Linked DNA regions of Homo sapiens: regions 2, 3 and 4 are each linked to region 1. The links come from fine-mapping of genetic effects on gene expression. A gene starts in region 1. Each other region holds a variant in brackets. All regions are shown on one strand. Distances are from middle to middle.

Region 1 (5,334 bases):
TGATCCCATAGTGTTCATAGCATAGCTGAGCAATCTCATCCGCGGTCCACATGGTCTGAGCTGGTATTGAGACCTTGATCAAAAACCACAACCATCAGAAGTACGGAAAGGAGAACCAGTGCACGATGCTACAGCCTCTCATATCCATGCTTCGAGTCTTTCAAATGGAGCAGACCGAGGTTTCCCTATCTGGAACTCTATGGATCATTTTCTTCTACTATCTCCCTGCCCCCTTTTCATCTTTAATGAAAGATCAAAGAAACCCCAAATTCTACCAATCCCCAAAATTATTGTTTCAAGTTTTTCTTAATGTTATATATCTGATACATTTCTAAGGAGTCTGCATCCTCTACTCAACATTAAAGGACACGAGAAGGAAATGTCCTCACTACTCCAGTTTTCACTGGAAACGGCATGTAAAGGGTTGCAGACTCACTTGCTTTGGGCAGACCCTCACTGTATAAGGTTTATCTTTCTGGACAGATGTTCTTATCTGTCTTCTTTTTCCAGGCATTTTATTTTTCTCCTTTCCCCTACAGCAGAGTGTTTCTCTACCGCCCTCTAGTAAATCCCCACTGAAATGTTTCTCAGCAGTTACGTGTTCTCATAGAGCTCTACTTAAGGGTGTGGACTTTGGATTCACCCTTTCTGGGTTCTAATTTTGGCTTTGCCACAAATTAACTGTGATGCTGAATAGACTACTTAACCTTGCTGGGTCTGTTTCCTCATCTGTCAAAATAGTGATAACAATAGTATCTAACCTATTTAGATTATTGTGAAGATTAAATAATACTTAGGGTTACTGTGAGGGTTAAATAAGTAATACTTATAAAAAGCAATTGCTACTATGTTGAGCATAATTAAGGTCAACTGTGATTACTATTACAAAAAATAACATTTGATGATTTTCCTGGTTAATTTGCCTTGAGCTACCTGGTGGTGGGGGTGAAAGGGGGAGGGCTGTAATGGGCATAGAAAGCCATGAATTAAAAAACCATCAAGCAGATCCCTAGGATACTTTGCAGGGAAATCTCTCACTCTTGGCCCTATCAATGCTCACTAGGCACATCCTGATCTCATTTGGACTCAATTATACAAAAAGCTTCCCAGTAGAAGATGAGCTTGTGATAGACATAGCTAAGCACTGTAAAACCAAACTGAAGGCCGGGCGCGGTGGCTCACCTGAGGTCAGGAGTTCGAGGCCAGCCTGGCCAACGTGGTGAAACCCTGTCTCTACTGAAAATACAAAAAAATTAGCCGGGCGTGATGGCGCGTGCCTGTAGTCCCAGCTACTCGGGAGGCTGAGGCAGGAGAATCGCTTGAACCCGGGAGGCGGAGGTCGCAATGAGCCGAGATTGTGCCACTGCACTCCAGGCTGGGTGACAGAGCGAGACTCCCTCTCAAAAAAACAAAAAAGGCTTTCCTGAGCTCCAGTGCATGCAGCTTTTGAAAGATGGTATTGTTATGAATCCCCTGCAGCGCAACGTGCAGGCTCGCTACTGTAGTGAATGCTACTGGTAAATCAGACCACAGTGATTTAAAACAAAAATCTGCAGGAAGTGAGACCCTGTGACTTGAAAGTCAGAGGGCCAGGGCAAGCCTTGTCAAGAAAAGAAAGCATGAGATCCTAGAATCCTCGTTTGGAAGGGACTCACCTCTCATTTCTAGGGAGGCATCACAAGGCAGTATAGTTTATGAAGACCACCTGGCCATCGACCTGAAATTAAACCAGAGGTGCAATTCACAAACCTCGATAGGCAAGGCAGGTAGAAGTTGCCAGAAGAAACAGTGACTCTCTTTAAGATGAAGCAGCCCAGAACGGCATCATCTCACTCAGGTAGTGCGTCTGAATGAGCATGCACAATTGTTTAAATGAATAAATGTTTTGCTACACTGGGTCCATTATAATTCGAGCCTACACCCCCTCCTAGATCTTGAAAACTTGAAGAACTTCTTAGCTGAAAATAACAGCTCAGCTAAACAGGCATTTATTTGCCCACAAGACCGCATCTCTGAACAGTTTCAACAAGCTAAAAAAACTGACGTCCTTTCCAAAGAAAAGGAAGTCGGCTGCCAGGGGAGAAAAGGCTTCAGCGATGCTTGGAGGAAGGGACTCTGGTTTACGCTGGCTCCCTTCCTAAACACTTCCGGAAGCAGAGCCCCTTCCCGGCCGCTGGAGAAGCCTGGGTGGGACCCCGAGTCGGCCAGTTACAGGATAGGAGGTGCCAGGCAAGGCACTGAAGCCATGCAGTGAGAACAGCGTGAGCGCCTGATCCATTGGGTCCTGCGGCTGCCAGGCCAGAGGCCCCGCGCCAGGAGCTCTTCAGGCGCCGGCTGCTGACAGTTCCAGGCGTGGAGCGCCTTCCCACGTGAAACGCGTCCCGGAAGATACGATCCTCACAACCTCTTCCCTCAAAAACAGACTCGGCAAAGTTAGCCCGGATAAACCTGCCCCGTCGCCCCAGCGCCTCGCGGACGCTCCCCTCCCACCTTCAGGAAACGCGCCTAGAAGAAAGCGAGCTTAATCCGCCGGTAAGGCGGACGTGACGTCACAAAGCGCCGGTTCCTTTCGGCTCCCGCTCCCAGAGGCGCGCAGTGCATGCCGGGCCCTGTAGTTTTTCCGGGGAGTCGGTGCCAGGGCCGAGATTCCCGCGCTTCAAGTCCCGCAGCCCTGGCTGCGTCTTAGAGAGGCGTGAAACCGGATGATGGGAGCCGCTTGTTGGCTTAGATATTCCTTCAACTAGAATGACGTATCTTGCAGCACTCGGCTGAATTTTTTTCTTTTTCTTTTTTTTTTTTGAGACGGAGTCTTGCTCTGTTGCTCAGGCTGGAGTGTAGAGGCGCGATCTCGGCTCACTGCAACCTTCGCCTCCCGGTTCAAGCGATTCTCCTGACTATGCTGTATTTCTATCTGTAACATCACTGTCCAATAGATATATAATTCGAACCATATACGTAATTTAAAAATTTCCAGTAGCCTCATTAAAAGTCAAAATAGAAACAATCATATATATTTTATTTAACCCATACATCCCAAATAGTATTATTTCAACATATAATCAAAAAATTTTTTGAGATGGAGTCTCGCTTTGTCGCCCAGGCTGGAAGCGGCGCAATTTCGGCGCACTGCAACCTCCGTCTCCTGGCTTCAAGCGATTCTCCTGCCTCAGCCTCCCAAGTAGCTGGGATTACAGGCGCCCGCCATCACACCCGGCTCATTTTTGTTATTTTTAGTAGAGACGGGGTTTCGCCATGTTACCAGGCTGGTCTCGAACTCCTGACCTCAAGTGATCCGCCCGCCTCAACCTCCCAGAGTGCTGGGATTACAGGCGTGAGTCACGATGCCCGGGGTCGGTCTGTCTGTCTCATATATATATATATATATATTTTTTTTTTTTTTTTTTTTTTTTTTGAGACGGAGTCTCGCTCTGTCACCCAGGCTGGAGTGCAGTGGCGCAATCTCTGCTCACTGCAAGCTCCGCCTCCCAGGTTCACGCCATTCTCCTGCCTCAGCCTCGCGAGTAGCTGGGACTACAGGTGCCTGCCACCACGTCAGGCTAATTTTTGTATTTTTAGTAGATACGGGGTTTCACCATGTTAGCCAGGATGGTCTCGATCTCCTGACCTCGTGATCTGCCCGCCTCGGCCTCCCAAAGTGCTGGATTACAGGCGTGAGCCACCGCACCTGGCTGCCGAGTCTCAATATTTTAAAAAATACTTATGTTCTGTTCTGTTTTTAATGCGAAGTTTAAGAAATCTGGTGTGTGTTACACTTAGAATACATCCCAATTTGGATCAGCCACATTTCAGATGCTGGATAGTCACATGTGGCTACTGGCTACTGTAGTACAGTACTACTACAGTGTAGTGGGCAGAACAGGTCTAAAAACCTTTGGATTGCCGGGAATAAGTAATATAGCTGCCTGGATACTTCAGGGGCCTTTGTCACCCAGTAACTGAATGCTCTATTACTAAAAATGAAAGAATTCATTTTTCTTTGTTACCCCTCAAAAATTTATGCAACTTGCTCAACCCCATCCTTCTCTCTAGTTCAAAGGAAATGGGACATGGCCCTCCTCCAAGGCCAAAGACTTTGCTCCTCATTCCTCTCCAATATCTTTAATCTGCAAGTGACTGCCTCTTCTGTCTTTTAAGAAATATTCCAGTGGGGGTAAGGGGTATCAAAGACCTTCTTCTAGGGTTCTTTATCTCAGGGATTGGTATTACTAGCAATCTAGTTGCGTAACTAAAAAGTGAGTCATGTTCCTTGTTATCTCCCTTCCCTTAATCCCCTTAGTGCAATCCATTACCAAGTCCTGTTGATCTTACTTCCTATCTCTTGAATCCATCCATTTCTCTCCACTTGCATGCCAATACGCTAGTAAAAGCCACTATCGTATTCCTCTTGGATTGCTACACTCATCTCTGAATTTCCACCTTTTCTTGCTTAACTCCAATTCATTTTCCACAGAGCAGCAAGACTAATCTTTTCAAACTGCAAATCTGGTGTCAGATTTGTGACTACTACACATTTACTGCTTAAATAATACTTCAGTGAATGCCTTCTCGGTACTTTTTTTTTTTTTGAGATGGAGTCTCACTCTCCTACCCAGGCTGTAACGCAGTGGCACAATCTCGGCTCACTGCAACCTCCGCCTCCCAGGGGCAAGCAATTCTACCTCAGCCTCCCCAGTAGCTGGGATTACAGGCACATGCCACAACACCCGGCTGATTTTTGTATTTTTAGTAGAGACGGGGTTTCACCCTGTTGGTCAGTCTGGTCTCAAACTCCAGACCTCAAGTGATCCGCCTGCCTTGACCTCCCAAAGTGCTGGGATTACAGGCGTGAGCCACCATGCCCGACTGGCTTCCCAGTACTCTTAAAATACAGACAAAAATCCCATAGTAGTGCTCACAGTCCTGCATGGCCAGCCCCTTCCTGCCTCACCTGGTGCCATATTTCTTTGGGCTTCTATACTCTCACTGGTCTCCATGTCCCTTCCTACCACAGGGCTTTTGCACTTGTTGCCATACCACGGAAAGCCTTCTTCCCTTCAGATCTCATGTCCTCAGAGAAACCTCCTCTAACTAGGTCCATGTCCATTATAGCTTCTCAACACCCCGTGGACCTCTCCTTCAAACCATTTACCTGAGCTGCCATTTTATACAATTTTGGAGGATGATTTATTACTATCTATTTTCTTTACAAGTGTAGATGCTTGATGAAGTTTGAGACCACGCCTGTTTCTGCTCACCCCAGCAAAGCAGTTAGCAAATTGTGAGCCTGCAACTGTTTGAAGAGAAATGGGGACTTTATGACCCTTCTGTCCCTTC
Region 2 (5,334 bases), 74 kb before region 1:
TGCATCTTTTAGTAGCAATCAATGAAATGAAAAAGGAAGCTATGTCAAATCAGCAAAGTATTAAAACCATATCTATTTGATAAATTACGGGCATGAAAGGAAAGAAGACAGAGGTCTGTAGAGGAAAAAAGACAAAATACAGCTTATGAAGCATATGTAGGCAGTGAAAAAAAACTGGTATCCACTCCTACCATCCACAGTCTTGCCAAACAGTGATGCTAAAATGATGATCAGGAAAGCACGGTTACTGAAAAGTGATCACTGCTGACATGGTCCCTCTGCACAACTCTGGATCTTTTTGCTACAACTGATCCTTTCCCACTGTGGATTCCCAGAACAATTCTACTATCGTGTAGCAGCATTCCCATCTGGATCCACCATCTATGGATTCATTTTGATTCCCACCATTACTATTACGTAAGGAAGAGATTTTTTGTGTGTGTGCTTTTTCAGGCTAATAATAAGGTCATTTGAAATGAAGAAATCTCAATTTTCAGAAACTTTCAATTATTTCTTTCTTTCTAGACAATAATGTTCCTTCTCTTAGGTCTTGTTTTAGAGAAACCTCCCTCCCTTTTCTCTTGGATACTTCCTCTCTGCCCTGTTTCATCAGCTTCGGGGAGGGATATCTGCTACCAGGGCTGATGATCAAGTTACTGAGGCAATGATGGACTAGTCATTATAGGTAGGATGAAAAGAGCCTGCCTTGCGGATCATGAGGTCAGAAGATCGAGACCATCCTGGCCAACATGGTGAAACCCCGTCTCTACTAAAAATACAAAAATTAGCTGGGAGTGGTGGCACGTGCCTGTAATCCCAGCTACTCAGGAGGCTGAGGCAGGAGAATCGCTTGAACCAGGGAGTTGGAGGTTGCAGTGAGCCAAGATCTTGCCACTGCACTCCAGCCTGGTGACAGAGCGAGACTCCATCTCAAAAAAATAAAATAAAAAATAAATAAAAGAGCCTGCCTTGTCTCCTGTGGATTTTCTTCAATTGGGATCTGGGTAGAAAATCTTATGTAACTCTCTGTGATGGATCCACACCTTCTAGATCTTTAGGGTTGGACAGGAAGAAAAGAGCACATTTCTCAACTTGCAACAGAGGATAGTGGCCAGGAGACAACTGCCAGAAGAATCCAGACTCCAACACACTGTGGGAGGGGGAAAAGCTCATTTCCTTTGATCTTTACAATAAATGTAAAGCCCCAGGCAGGCAGAACAGGTATTTTCCCATTACACAGATGACAAAATCAAGGATGAGTGAGATTAGGGCATTTATCAGAGGTACAGCAAGTAATGGTGAAGACAGGATTTGAGATCAGGTGACTTCAAATCTGGTCCTCTTTTTAGGACCAAAATGTCTAAAATTATTTTAAAAATTCCAAATGAAGACAGCAGGTTGGACAAATCTTCCTGAAAAACAGCAGCACCAGGCATCTACGTCTGTATACTTGCCTGTGCACATCCTTCCATTCCAAGTTCGCGGGGGACAGATTTGGCACAACACCATCAATAGTGTCTACTTGTTAAATTCACTCATTGATCTGTTACGTACTTTTTGGAAACACGCCAGGCACTATTTCAAATAATGAGACTATAATGGTAAACAAAATAGACAAAGTCCCCATCCTAATGGGGCATACATTCCCGATGGACAATGTAGAAAACAGTGACAAGTGCCGCTGACAGAAATGAAGCAGGCTAAAATTAGAGAATAATGAAGGTAAAATTTAACAGAAATTGGCCAGGCGTGGTGGCTTATGCCTATAATCCCAGCACTTTGGGAGGCCCAGGTGGGTGGATTGCTTGGGCTCAGGAGTTCGAGAGCAGCCTGGGCAACATGGCGATACCCTGCCTCTATTAAAAATACAAAAATTAGCTAGGCATGGTGGCGTGCACCTGTAATCCCAGCTACTAGGGAGGCTGAGGCAGGAGAATCGCTTGAACCCAGAAGGTGGAGGTTGCAGTGAGCCGAGATCGTGCCTCTGCACTCCAGCCTGGTGACAGAGCAAGACTCTATCTCAAACAAACAACAAAAAAACCCAAAAAGAATTTAACAGAAATTTTTAAATATTCAGGATGACCCAACTTGTTGGAGTCCTGAAGGAAGTGAAGTGATGGGGTGCAGGAACATCTCAGAGAGGAGGGATCCAGGCTAATCAGGTACATGTGCTCTGGGTACCCGTGGGATCAATGCATCTGGCAGAGTGGGTGAGAAGGAGAGCAGGGTGGAGAGAGGGGGGAGAGAAGTTTCGATGGAAAGGATGTGTCTCCCACAAATGACCTGTCACCAAGCTGGACTCTCACCCTCCTGGGGCTGGCGAAGTTTGGCTGTGCTCCTCTGTTATCACTTGGACCACTGAATAAATCAATTATTTAATTCCATTTAGTTGAAAGTAAGTTTAACATATGTGCAATAGCTAACAAAGGCAGGCATTCAAAGGCTACTACTTCTTTAACACAAATTCTAGGTCGCTATCTAACCTCCAACTGGTACTTAGCCAAGAGAATTCACATATCACACCACCACCTTATATCTACAACGTATATACAGGCTTTGGAACAATTTTTATATCCATTCATTGTCCCACGTGATTCCTCTGCATATCCCAGGAGAGATGTGGGTACTCTCATGCCCTGTATATGGATAGATAAATTGAGGGTGAGGTTATGAAACCCAGTGACAGAATTGGGACTAGGACCTTGTGGGACAAGGATCTTGGTTTGCTGACTCCTGATTCAGGGCTCTTCTATAATAGCTCATAAGAACTCTAACTGAAAAGATTTCTCATGGTTAAAGGAGGATAACCCTTTAGAGATACACATGAAATCCACACGCATGTACTGAGCAGAGTCAGAGGGAATTTTTTTGTTTTTTTTTTGAGACGAAGTCTTACTCTGTTGCCCAGGCTGGAGTGCAGTGGCACAATCGCCACTCACCGCAACCTCCACCTCCCAGGTTCGAGTGATTCTCCTGCCTCAGCTTCCTGACTAGCTGGGATTACAGGTGTGCGCCACTACGCCCAGCTGATTTTTGCATTTTTAGTAGAGATGGGGTTTCACCGTGTTGGCCAGGCTATTCTCAAACTCCTGACCTTGGGTGATCTGCCCGCCTCAGCCTCCCAAAGTGCTGG[G/A]ATTACAGGCATGAGCCACCGCACCTGGCCAGAGGGAATTTAACATAGGGAATAAATAGTCCCATAGGTATTAGAGGACTGAAGACGTAAAAAGGGGATATCCCAGCAACACAGAGATAGTAGCTGCAGGGAACATTTCCCACACCTAGGACTAGAGAAGAAGGGGAAGCGGGTGGGACTGATAGAACTTAGAGGTTCAGGGAAGAGGCCTCGAAGAGCTGAGCCTCAGACTTCAAGAAGGGACCGCGGCCCAGATGGGGCCAGGACCTCTGAGCTTGGAGGAAGCATGCACTAGAGGGAACCTTGAAGCCGGTAGGAGAGGCGTCCTGCTCCTTCCTGTTTGCTGGTTGTCCCTGTTTGTGGCATCCACAGTGGTTCTTCACCCTGGCAGTGGTGACTGGTTTCATTTCTTTTTTTCTGCACTCCCAGAACAAGGCTCATCATGCCTCCTACTGGCAGAACCTAACAGGAAGCTGCAGGGGAAGAAGGTGGTTTCCAGCATCTCAGCAGGAACCTGGAAGCTGAGCGTAGGAGGGTGGGTTTGGAGCTGAGACAATACCTCATAACCAGCACACCACCTGACTGCAGGAATTGCCAGAAATTCAAGTGCCATTGTTTCCAGAGTATCCTGATGTGTGACTTTTTTCCCCGTCAGGAATTCCCAGCATCTGACGGTTTGTTGGAATTTTGTTTGGTTTCTGTTTTGTTTGCGTACATTTCATTCATTTAAGTCGTATTCTTTTTTTTTTTTTTTTGAGATGCAGTCTGGCTCTGTTGCCCAGGTTGGAGTATGGGTGGTGCAATCTCAGCTCACTGCAATCTCCGCCTCCCGGGTTCAAGCAATTCTCGTGCCTCAGCCTCCCAAACAGCTGGGATTACAGGAACCTGCCATCACACCCGGCTAATTTTTGTGTTTTTAGTAGAGACGGGGTTTCACCATGTTGGCCAGGCTGGTCTAGAACTCCCTACCTCAGGTGATCCATCCGCCTCGGCCTCCCAAAGTGCTGGGATTACAGGCGTGAGCCACTGCGCCCGGCCCATATTCTTTTATTAAAGGTTAATTTCCTAGTTTATACCAGTGTCTATTTCACCATATACTTGTCATCACCGGGTGCTCCTTTCTTTTTAAGCTAAAAATACTCTTTGGCACCAGTTGTGGGTCTCTAGCAAAGCAGAAACTGCCACTTCGTGGTTCCTTTCCACCTTTCTACCTGTATTTCTTTTTTTTTCTATTTCTTTTTTTCTTGATACAGGGTCAAAAAAGGCTAGAGTGCAGTGGCACGATCACAGCTCATTGCAGCCTTGACCTCTCAGGCTCAAGTGATCCTCCCACCTCAGCCTCCTGAGTAGCTGGGACTATAGGCATTCACCACTACCCCTGGCTAATTTTTAAATTTTTTATAGTAGGGCCTCACTATGTTGCCTAGGCGGTCTGGAACTCCTGAGCTCAAGGGGCTAGCCTCCCAAAGTGCTGAGATTATAGGCATGAGCCACAGTGCTCAGCCTTGTATTTCAATCTAAGATACCATTACTTATAAAATGAACCATTATTTTATATACCACTGATAAAAGAAAAACATTTCCAATTAAACTATGACACTTTTCTAATCACTTACTTTTTAAAAAGTTACTAAAAGAGCTTTTAGATTTAGACATATTTACACAGATATGTTTATTTACTTAGAAAAATATAAGCAAAATAGGTCGGGGCAGTGGCTCACGCCTGTAATCCCAGCACTTTGGGAAGCCGAGGTGGGTGGATCACCTGAGGTCAGGAGTTCGAGACCAGCCTGACCAACATGATGAAATCCCGTCTCTACTAAAAATACAAAAATCAGCCGGCCGTGGTGGTGCCTGCCTGTAATCCCAGCTACTCATGAGGCTGAGGCAGGAGAATCGCTTGAACCCAGGAGGCGGAGGTTGCAGTGAGAAGAGATTGCGCCACTGCACTCCAGCCTGGGCAACAGAGTGAGACTTCATCTCAAAAAAAAAAAAGAAAAGAAAAGAAAGAAAAATATAGGCAAAATAAATTGATTCAGGGATTCCTAAAACTTCTTTACATCCTCATCCTTTTGAGTAACACTTTAACTCAGTCAACAACCCATACTTTTCTATGCAACTTTGTCCTTTGTGCCATCAAACATGTTGGTGATACAGCATTAAAAGAAAAACAAAAACAAAAAACAAAAATTCAGCTGGGC
Region 3 (5,000 bases), 25 kb after region 1:
TGCCGTGGGCTGAAATCGCACCGCTGCAATCCAGCCGGGGCAACAACGACTCTGCCTCCAAAAAAAAAAAAAAAAAAAAAAAGTCAGTAAAGAGGAATTAACCAGTTTTTTCCGTTTACCTAAAAACACACTCTGAACTGGAAACCGTGCTTTCACCTGTGATATACAGTCCTAAAGTTCAATTCAATGTAATTGATTATCATAGGTGGTTTGAAAGAATGAACTAAACTTTAGGATCGTATATCACAGATATACCACATTCAATTAAATTTGACTTAATAAAGTCAAGTCAATTTTCTCTAAGGTAGCAGTCCAAAGACCAGGTTCCAAACTTTTATGGAAGTCCATCGGATTGCTCTAATAAAGGACAATATATTAAGGTCCTACCCAACTATAAACTTCGACAATTTCTCTTATACTTTTTCTAAGATATTTGAAGCACAAAGCCAGGGACACAAAAGGAAACATCAGGCCAGGGGTGGTGGCTCAGGCTCACGCCTGTCATCCCAGCACTTTGGGAGGCCAAGGTGGGCGGATCACAAGGTAACGAGATTGAGACCATCCTGCCCAACATGGTGAAACCCTGTCTCTACTAAAAATACAAAAATTGGCCAGCCATGGTGGCACACGCCTGTAATCCCAGCTACTCGGGAGGCTGAGGCAGGAGAATCGCTTGAACCCTGGCAGCGAAGGTTGCAGTGAGCTGAGATCGCGCCACTGCACTCCAGCCTGGCGACAGAGCGAGACTCCATCTTAAAAAAAAAAAAAAAGAAACATCATTTCTCTTTTCTTTTTCATTCAGGGTCTGGCTCCGTCTCAGTAACTCCTTGGGGAAAGCGATGGAGAAGGGCTCGCTCACGCAGCACTTCTGGCAGTCCCTGAAGGACCACTACCTCAAGTCTCCCAGGCTGGAGTGCAGTGGCACGACTTCAGCACACTGCAACCTCCGCCTCCTGGGTTAAAGCGATTCTCCTGCCTCAGTCTCCCGAGTAGCTGGGATAACAAGTGCGCGCCACGGGGATTAAGCCCTCTCGTATGCCTCTGGAATGGTACTATGTACCATCTTCCTAGCAATGATAAAACACTCAATTACCTGTGTTCTGTGGTTCAAATGGGGAACGCTAATGAGAATATAAGACAGCCAGTTAAAGGGTGGCTAATCCTGACTTATCTATGTTAACCTACATACTCCAGGGATTTGGGAGTGGTTAACAAAGATATCAGGCTGAATTAAGATGGTCTCTACTGTTAGACGTTGATCACTTAATACTCACAGGTATCTACTGAATAACCCATACGGGTAGATGCATGACAGTTTTAGAACTGATCCCTTTTAATACATAACGTTCAGAATGACCTTAGTGAGGCCCAGAAAATTTTGAAGGTCTTTCTGAAAAGCTAGGGTATTTAACATTTCTCCAACTTCCACGTTTACTGAGTGGCTCAACAAAAGAATGCATTTCTCAGAAAGGAGGATGAAGCTAAGCAGGAAGTTTCGCTTTTCTTTTCTGATAACTCTTAGTTCTCGTCCTAGTTCCTCCTCCACAGTCTCTTAACTCTAGGAGTATGATAGGGAGCATCCCGCCGGTGCCAGCTGGGAACGGGGAGCCGGCGTGCCCGGGGTATCCCGGGGTACGTGGTCTGCAGGGCGCAGCCACCACGTCTCAGCATGTGCGTACCCACGAGAGCCGGCAAGAAGGCCCCGGCACAGCAGCCTTGGTGGGAACCTCGCGGCGCTTCCCAGCCCAGACTCTCCTACCGCAAAGGCTTTAAAGACTCGCAGCGACACTCACTTCTTGCTCAGTTTCGGCTCGCTGCCATCCACTTTCACCTCGGCCGCCTGCACGGCCGCCATCTTCCCGGAGGGCCCGACCCAAAAGTAAGGAGGATAGTACGTTAATTTCCAGGTCAAGGTGCGAAGCCCCACCTCTTCCGGGGGAGAGGGGGCGGGCACTCTCGATGCGCCGCGGCTGCTGCTGCGCAGGCCCAGTGCTGCGCTTCGCGGCAGAGGCGTCTGCGGTGACAGCTCAGTCAGTTGAGCTCTGTGTGCCAGGCGCTCG[C/G]GAGGGGGTAGCTCTTCTAGTAGTGCTCGGCGTCAGACATGGCGGAGGCGATGGATTTGGGCAAAGACCCCAACGGGCCCACCCATTCCTCGACTCTGTTCGTGAGGGACGACGGCAGCTCCATGTCCTTCTACGTGCGGCCCAGCCCGGCCAAGCGTCGGCTGTCGACGCTCATCCTGCACGGCGGCGGCACCGTGTGCCGAGTGCAGGAGCCCGGGGCCGTGCTGCTGGCCCAGCCCGGGGAGGCGCTGGCCGAGGCCTCGGGTGATTTCATCTCCACGCAGTACATCCTGGACTGCGTGGAGCGCAACGAGAGGCTGGAGCTGGAGGCCTATCGGCTGGGCCCCGCCTCGGCGGCGGACACCGGCTCGGAAGCAAAGCCCGGGGCCCTGGCCGAGGGCGCCGCGGAGCCGGAGCCGCAGCGGCACGCCGGGCGGATCGCCTTCACGGATGCGGACGACGTAGCCATCCTTACCTACGTGAAGGAAAATGCCCGCTCGCCCAGCTCCGTCACCGGTAACGCCTTGTGGAAAGCGATGGAGAAGAGCTCGCTCACGCAGCACTCGTGGCAGTCCCTGAAGGACCGCTACCTCAAGCACCTGCGGGGCCAGGAGCATAAGTACCTGCTGGGGGACGCGCCGGTGAGCCCCTCCTCCCAGAAGCTCAAGCGGAAGGCGGAGGAGGACCCGGAGGCCGCGGATAGCGGGGGTGAGGAGGCTGAGCGCGGGGCCTCGCGGATATCTGCGCGGGTGGGGTTGGGATCTTTCTCCTGGCTGCCTGGCGTCCATCTTGGCATCTTCGGTAGCAGCGCTTGGCCCCGCCCCCTGTTGACATCCGGGTAAATTTGCACCATTTTCTTGCCTTCTCGCTCCCTTGTTGTTTATTATTGTTCTTTTTTTGCGATGGGTCTCTGTTACCTAAGCTGGTCTGAACTCCTGAGCTCAAGCGATCCTCCTGCCTCGGCCACCCAAAGTGTTGGGATTACAGGAGTGAGCCACCACGTCTGGCCTCTCGTCGTTTTTATTTTTTAATTTTTGAGTGGGGGCTCGCTCCGTCGCCCAGGCTGTGATGCAGCCGCGCGATCACGACCTACTGCATCCTGGACCTCCTGGGCTCAAGCGAATCTCCGGCTTCAGCCTCCCAAGTAGCTGGAACTACACTCCCGCGCCACCACGTCCCGCTAAATTAAAAAAAAAATTGTTGTAGAGATGGGGGTCTCGTTGTGTTGCCCTGACAGGTCTCGAACTCTTGGGCTCAAGCGATCCTCCCGTCTCGGTGTCCCAAAGTGTTGGGATTACAGGCGTGAGCCATCACACCCAGCTTCTTGGTCTAGTTTTAATTTACTTTACCATTGACTAGAATATTGACATGGTTCTATATTCAAAAGTTACAAAAAGTATATAGAAAATTCTCTCTTGGCCGGGCGCGGCGGCTCAAGCTTGTAATCCCAGCACTTTGGGAGGCCGAGGCGGGCGGATCACCTGAGGTAAGGAGATCGAGACGAGCCTGACCAACATGGCGAAATGCCGCCCCTACTAAAAATACAAAAATTAGCCGGCCGTGGCGGAGAGTTCCTGTAGTCCCAGCTACTCAGGAGGCTGAGGCAGGAGAATTGCTTGAACCCGGGGGGCGGAGGTTGCAGTGAGCCGAGACTGCGCCACTGCTCTCCAGCGTGGGTGACAGAGCAAGACTCCATCTCAAAAAAAAAAAAAAATTATCTCGTCCTTCCTGTCCACCAGCTACCCACGGGCTAACTGGCTTCTTGTGTTTCTTTTAAGAGATATTCCACAGACTCCTTTTTAAAAAAGATTGCTGTTATGTTCAGGTAGATTCAGTATAAAGGCGTACCAGACTTACTTTAATGCTCTGGCGTAACTGAATGCCTATGGACTTAAGAAGGTTCTCGGCAGTTGGAAGGTCTCTTCCTGGTCTTGCTTAGGTGAAGTGAGTTTTTAATGCAGTTGAATTGAAAATTGGGGTTCAGTATGTCTAGGATACAGAACGAGTCTGTTAAGATGTACTTGGTGACGTACCTGGCATTGATAACTTAAACCGATAGACCCTTTTGTTTAAAGAGGCATGCTGCTTCTCCTCCCCCTCCGTAATCCTCCCACCTTTTCTTTGCCTGTATGACTACTCCATTTAACACTTGAAGTCTGGGGAGTAAAATCTTTTTCTCCTGTTCAGTATGCTTAGTAGGAATTTTGTTTTGGTAAAAGTGACATTTCAGCTTCATTCATTCAGCAGAAATTTGAGTGCCAGACATTGTGGTCCTGCTGGAATATAACAATAAATAAAAGTCCCTGTGGTCCTGGAGCTTATAACATGCTAGCTGGGGAGTGGTAAGGGCTATAGAGAAAAATAATTCAGAGTGTAAGGGTTGGGGAGGAGGTTTTTCCTATAGGATGATAAGAGAAGGTCATTCTCATAAGCTGATGTTTAAGCAGAGACCGAAGGAAGTGAAAGAGCAACCCAGGTGGATATCTGGGGAAGAGTGTTCAGGCAGAGGAAGAAGCCAGGGCAATCGCCCTTAGGTGGGAGTATGGCTGGTGTGTTTGGAGCCACAAAGAGAACAGAGTGGCTGTTAATGGAGTAGGAGGGAGAATTAATTATAGCAGATGAGGTTAGGGCTATGTGTATGGGTGAAGTATGTCATCATGTATGGCCTTGCTTTTATTTTTATTTTATTTTAATTTTATTATATATCTTGAGATGGGGTCTTGCTCTGTCACACAGGCTGGAGTGCGGTAGTGCGATCACGGCTCACTGCAGCCTTGACTTCCCAGGCTCAGTGGATCCTCCCACCTCAGCTTTCCAAGTAGCTGGGACTACAGGCACTCGTCACCATACCTAGCTAATTTTTGTATTTTTTTGTAGAGACAGGATTTGGCCGTGTTGCCCAGGCTGGTCTCGAACTCCTGGGCTCAAGGGATCTGCCCG
Region 4 (5,328 bases), 23 kb before region 1:
ACTCACCATAAGGTAGAATCAGTAGGAGCCCTGAGCTTGTTTTCCTGCAACTAGACAGTCCCATATGGGGGTTATGGAAGACACTGACAGATCATCAGGCATTATATTCTCATAAGGAGTGTGCAACCTAGATCCCTTGCATGCACAGTTCACAATAGGATTCACGCTCCTATGAGAATCTAATGCCACTGCTGGTATGACAGGAGGAGGAGCTACGGCAGAAATGTGAGCGATGGGGGGCAGCCATAAATACAGATGAAACTTCAAGTGCTCACCTGTTACTTATCTCCTGCTGTGTGACCTTGTTCCTGACAGGCCACAGACAAGTAATGGTCTGTGGCTCTGGGGCTGGGGGCCCCTGCCCTAAAGCTTTTAGAGGAAGCAGAAGCCCCACCAACAACCTGTTTGGACTTCTAGCCTCCAGAACTGAAAGGGGATACAGTCTTTTCTTCTTATTTTTTGAGATGGAGTCTTGCTCTGTCACCCAGGCTAGAGTGCAGTGGCACGATCCTGGCTCACTGCAACCTCCACCTCCTGGGTTTGAGAGATTCTTCTGCCTCAGCCTCCTGAGTAGTTGGGACTATAGGCGTGCGCCAATACACCTGGCTAATTTTTGTATTTTTAGTAGAAAGGGGCTTCACCATGTTGGCCAGGATGGTCTTGATCTCCTGACGTCGTGATCTGCCCACCTCGGCCTCCTAAAGTGTTGGGATTACAGGCGTGAGCCACTGCACCCGGCCAGGAATACATTTCTGTTGTCTTAAGCCACCCAGCTTGTGGTACTTCGTTAAGAAACAGCTCTAGGAAACTATTACAGGCACAAAATTTGTGATGAAAATGTTCTAAAATTGATGGTTGCACAACTCTGTGGATATACTAAAAAAATTTTTTTTTTTTTTTTTTGAGACAGGATCTCACTCTGTCACCCAGGCTGGAGTGCAATGGCATGATCTTGACTCACTGCAACCTCCGCCTCCCAGGTTCAAGTGATTCTCCTGCCTCAGCCTCCCAAGTAGCTGGGACTACAGGCGTGCACCACCATGCCCGGCTAATTTTTGTATTTTTAGCAGAGACGGGGTTTCATCATGTTGGCCAGACTGGTCTCGAACTCCTGACCTCAGGTGATCTGCCTGCCTCAGCCTCCCAAAGTGTTGGAATTACAGGCGTAAGCCACCGTGCCCGGCCTAAAAACTTTTAAAATGTATACTTTAGTTGGGTGAATTTTATGGTCTGTGAATTATATCTCAATACAACTGTTATTTAAAAATATTTATAGCCACAAAATGCTGAAGAACCAATAAGGACCTTGAGTAACCCCAACATGGGAGCTTCCATTTTCAGTCAATCATTCAAGGTCTGAAGTTGAGTGTTAAACATTCGATGTTAAAACAGGATTGGCTGCTGGGTCTATTGCTGATTTGCTGCAGGGCCTTTTGGCTTCTTTTTTTTTTTTTTTTTTTTTTTTTGAGATAGGGTCTTGCTCTATCACCCAGGCTGGAGTGCAGCGGTACGATCTTTGCTCACCACTACCTCCGCCTCCTGGGTTCAAGCAATTCTCCTGCCTCAGCCTCCCGAGTAGCTAGGATTACAGGTGTGCGCCACCATGCCCGGCTAGTTTTTGCATTTTTAGTAGAGACAGGGTTTCACCAGGTTGGCCAGGCTGGTCTTGAACTCCTGACCTCAAGTGATCTGCCTGCCTGGGCTTCCCAAAGTGCTGGGATTACAGGCCTGAGCCACCAAGCCTGGCCACCTTTTGGCTTTTTGGACAGAACTCTTTCAATTGTAAGTCAGAAAACCAACACAAACAGGCTTAATCAAAATAACAACAGGAATCTGTCTCACATAATTGAGACATCTAAACAGTGTTACTAGATCTTTGATTCTCTTGGCTGTTTCCTTTGTTGCCTTCATTCTTTGCTGGCTTTCTCTAGGTAGTAGGAAAAGATGGCCACCGGCAGTCCCATGATTATGTGACCCTTACAGCTCCAGATCAAAACAGAAAGCCTTTCCTGATACCTCTGAGAACAAGTCCAGGGCAGTCCAGGGCTGGCTCACAGGCTATTCCTAGAGCCAGGGAGTAAGGTTAGCTTCAGCCAAGTCTGAGGCACAGAGCAGGATCACTGAAGAATGGGAAAAGAATGGCTCCCTGAAGAAAGAAAGGCTGGGAATACAAAATATATATTCGCTATGCTAGGCAAAGCTGTAAAACTTGCAGAGCGTCAAACATCATTTC[A/G]GCTCAATAAATATTTGCTGAATCAATGTAGGAACCCATAAAACAGAGCTGCTGCAGAGTACTTTCAAAGCATCATGTTCCAAACTCTGATTTCATATTTTAGAGAAGCAATAAAACACAATGGAAGTCAGATAGTGAGGTCATTAGTGAGATGCCATTTTAGCAGAGAGCTACTTCAATCAAGTATAGCTTGCTCTAAGTTCCAGATTCCATCTGTATTACACAACAGAGATGCAAAGCTCAGAAAGAATGTTCCCTGATTTAACTACCAAAAAAGCTAAGACTTGTCCTGCGTGGAGGAAGGCAGTTCAGGATGAAGGGTCCTGCTACCAGAGCAAACATTTCCTTCTCACTTGAACTGGTGATAATCCGGTGGGTTTCTGATCCAGGATCCAAACACCTGCTTCCGGAGTGTGCTCCAGGCTTCCTGGTAAGAGGACGCAGCCTCCTTGTACTCCTGGTAGGTATCCAGCTTCTGCACCCTAATGCACACAGGCCACCAAATACACAGGTTCTCATTGAATAGCCCACCCCAGGGGCCACCAGACACCTGAGCAAGCAACTGGACAGACTTGTAATGAGACTTAGGTAGAGAAGGAGTTCAGTATGCTTTTGTGAAAGTTGATCATACAAACTACGTTATTCTTGTCATACTCAACTGAAACAGAGTTGAGAAGCCAGGGGTAAAAAACACTCAGGGCGCATAACATTGCTCCAAGAATGCATTCTCTGCAAGCCTGGCTGCTAAAACTGCCTGCCAGTTTTATCTAACAGCTACTGAACCAACCTGCTGCAGACTTTAAGAATAGTTTTACCCAGTGCCATCACTTGGCAGCTCCTCACTTTACTCATGTCAATGAACCTTCTTCAACAATATGTTACATTTCTTTTTTGAAAAATAAAACCTCTAACCTTCCCTTTGTTCTTCAGACATATTGAAGACCACCCAGTCTGTATGTCTTGAATTTCTTGTATCCCAAATAAAATATTAAATTTAGAGATTTATCTTTACATTTTTATTTTGACTTTTGACACTTTCCTAGAGCAACTCTGTCTCCTTTGTAGGGAATTCACGAGAAAGCAACATGAATTAAAACAGTTAAGAATGAACAGAATTCTAGGTTTCTATGGTCCTAGTGGAATCAGATAAAATAAAAACAACTGTCTACTTTTTTGGTTTAAAAGTTTTCTAGGCCAGGCATGGTGGCTCACACCTGTAACCCCAGCACTTTGGGAGGCCGAAGCAGGCGGATCACCTGAGGTCAGGAGTTTGAGACCAGCCTGGCCAACATGGTGAAACCCCATCTCTACTAAAAATACAAAATTAGCCGGGCGTGGTGGCAGGCACCTGTAGTCCCAGCTACCTGGGAGGCTGAGGCAGGAGAATCACTTGAACCCAGGAAGCGGAGGTTCCTGTAAGCTACGATTGTGCCACTGTACTACACAGACTGGGCGACAGAGCAAGACACTGTCTCAAAAAAAAAAAAATACAGTAACTACTAGTTATCAAAACCCTACTACAAACCAGGCTCTTGGTCACATGCAACACTTCCCTTAATTGTCTCAGCTACCCTGTCTCAAAAACAAACAAACAAACAAACATACATACATGCCAGGCGGTGGCTCACGCCTGTAATCCTGGCACTTTGGGAGGCTGAGGCAGGTGGATCGCCCGAGGTCAGTAGTTCAAGACCAGCCTGGTCAATATGGTGAAACCCCGTCCCTACTAACTATACCAAAAATTAGCCGGGCGTGGTGGCGGGTGCCTGTAATCCTAGCTACTCTGGAGACTGAGGCAGGAAAATCACTTGAACCTGGGAGGCGGAGGCTGCAGTGAGCTGAAATTGTGCCACTGCACTCCAGCCTGGTTAACAGGAGCAAAACTCTGCCTTAGAAGTATCTCCTCACCTAAATTCAGATTTGACATATAGAATATATGGAAACCCAAGAAAGAAGCCAACTGACCACAGATCCATCACTTCAGTATGCATGATGGCGATGCCTCTTCATATAGAAGTTTCTAGCTACTCCTTAGTTTCCCCACTGTCATATAATGAAGGATTCACTTGGTCTTTGTCACCAGTTCCCGGGAGCCTCTAAGCTTTGGAGTTTCTGCAAGTGTCTTTGTCCTGCATGGTAGATCTCGCTGATCACACGTGAGTTTCTGTTTAACCAGGTGACTCATGGTGGGCCCCCGAGATAGTTTCAGGATGATACCGGCCATGCCAGAAAGACCAACCATGTAGAGAATTAGGGCTCTGAGACACGTGATATCAGTTTGAACTCTTGGGAGAGGAGGAGGTTGGAGATTAAGTTCAATCACATCATGTGGCCAATAATTCAATCAGTCATAATAGTTAATGAAACTCCAACAAAAACTTTGGACACTGATGTCTGAGTGAGATTCCTAGTTGGTGATGCGCAGCAATGTGCTGGGAAGGTGATATGTCCTGAGGACATGGAAGCTCTGCCTTTGCGACCCTCCCATATCTTACCCTATATCTCTCTCCTTTTGGCTAGTACTGATCTGTAGCCTTCATAATAAAACTTTAATGGCAACTATAGTGCTTTTCTGAGTTCTGAGAGATGTTCTAGTGAATGACTGAACGTGAAGGGGAGTGGAGACACTCAAATTTGTAGCCAGTTGGTCAGAAGTATGGGTGGTTTGGGGCTTTCCTTAACTTGTGGTAGTTGTTTGAAATGAAGACAGTTTAGTGGGAACTGTGTCCTTCACCTGTGAAACTTCACCTAAATCTAGGTGGTCACTGTCAGAATGTCACTGCACCCATCTACCTGTTCCCAAGAGTGGTTTTAAAGTTCTTTGAATTTTTGTTTGAAGAGCAATTTAAGTCATGGAGCTGCAAGTTCAAAAGGAAAAGAGGAGTAACACTTGTAACAGAATATATTGCTCTTAGAGCACTCCCATTTCCACAGTGATCTCCATCTAGAGGTGGAATCAAAGGAGGGCCTGGAATGGCCAAGCCCCAGTTCTATCCTTAGTTTTTTATAACTCTATACCACCAAACTACCCATCCTCTGCATCTCAGATCATGCACGTATCTGCAAATAGGGCTATGGGGAAAGAAGAACTTGTG

What was found. PIP is the estimated chance that this variant, and not a neighbour inherited with it, causes the effect.
Region 2: its variant is fine-mapped to the expression of ADAT1 in cerebral cortex (GTEx, PIP 0.90).
Region 3: its variant is fine-mapped to the expression of ADAT1 in transverse colon (GTEx, PIP 0.99). The same link has a PIP of 0.9 or more in breast and coronary artery.
Region 4: its variant is fine-mapped to the expression of ADAT1 in esophagus muscle (GTEx, PIP 0.97).

The regions. Positions count from the first base shown.
Region 1 is chr16:75,620,748-75,626,081 of GRCh38, forward strand. It overlaps ADAT1 (adenosine deaminase tRNA specific 1), which reads right to left and starts at 2,534. Exons shown (of 10, transcript NM_001324445.2): 1 at 1,656-2,534; 2 at 1-73. The coding sequence starts at 52. RefSeq lists a silencer at 404-698 and enhancers at 767-1,287, 1,288-1,807, 1,808-2,327, 2,209-2,448, 2,328-2,847.
Region 2 is chr16:75,546,846-75,552,179 of GRCh38, forward strand. The region is part of intron 2 of TMEM231 (transmembrane protein 231); the gene reads right to left. Among named protein-coding and RNA genes, the nearest start is that of TMEM231, 6.7 kb to the right of the region's middle. RefSeq lists enhancers at 3,334-3,403, 3,444-3,503. The variant G/A (reference allele first, on the strand shown) is at 3,134.
Region 3 is chr16:75,645,785-75,650,784 of GRCh38, forward strand. KARS1 (lysyl-tRNA synthetase 1) reads right to left here and starts at 1,881. Exons shown (of 14, transcript NM_005548.3): 1 at 1,794-1,881. The coding sequence starts at 1,855. It overlaps TERF2IP (TERF2 interacting protein), which reads left to right and starts at 1,989. Exons shown (of 3, transcript NM_018975.4): 1 at 1,989-2,768. The coding sequence starts at 2,099. RefSeq lists enhancers at 1,734-1,913, 1,953-2,910, 2,844-3,113, 2,911-3,866, 4,445-4,524 and a silencer at 2,414-2,533. The variant C/G (reference allele first, on the strand shown) is at 2,061.
Region 4 is chr16:75,597,634-75,602,961 of GRCh38, forward strand. ADAT1 (adenosine deaminase tRNA specific 1) reads right to left here. Exons shown (of 10, transcript NM_001324445.2): 10 at 1-2,715. The coding sequence ends at 2,583. Among named protein-coding and RNA genes, the nearest start is that of ADAT1, 23 kb to the right of the region's middle. The variant A/G (reference allele first, on the strand shown) is at 2,234.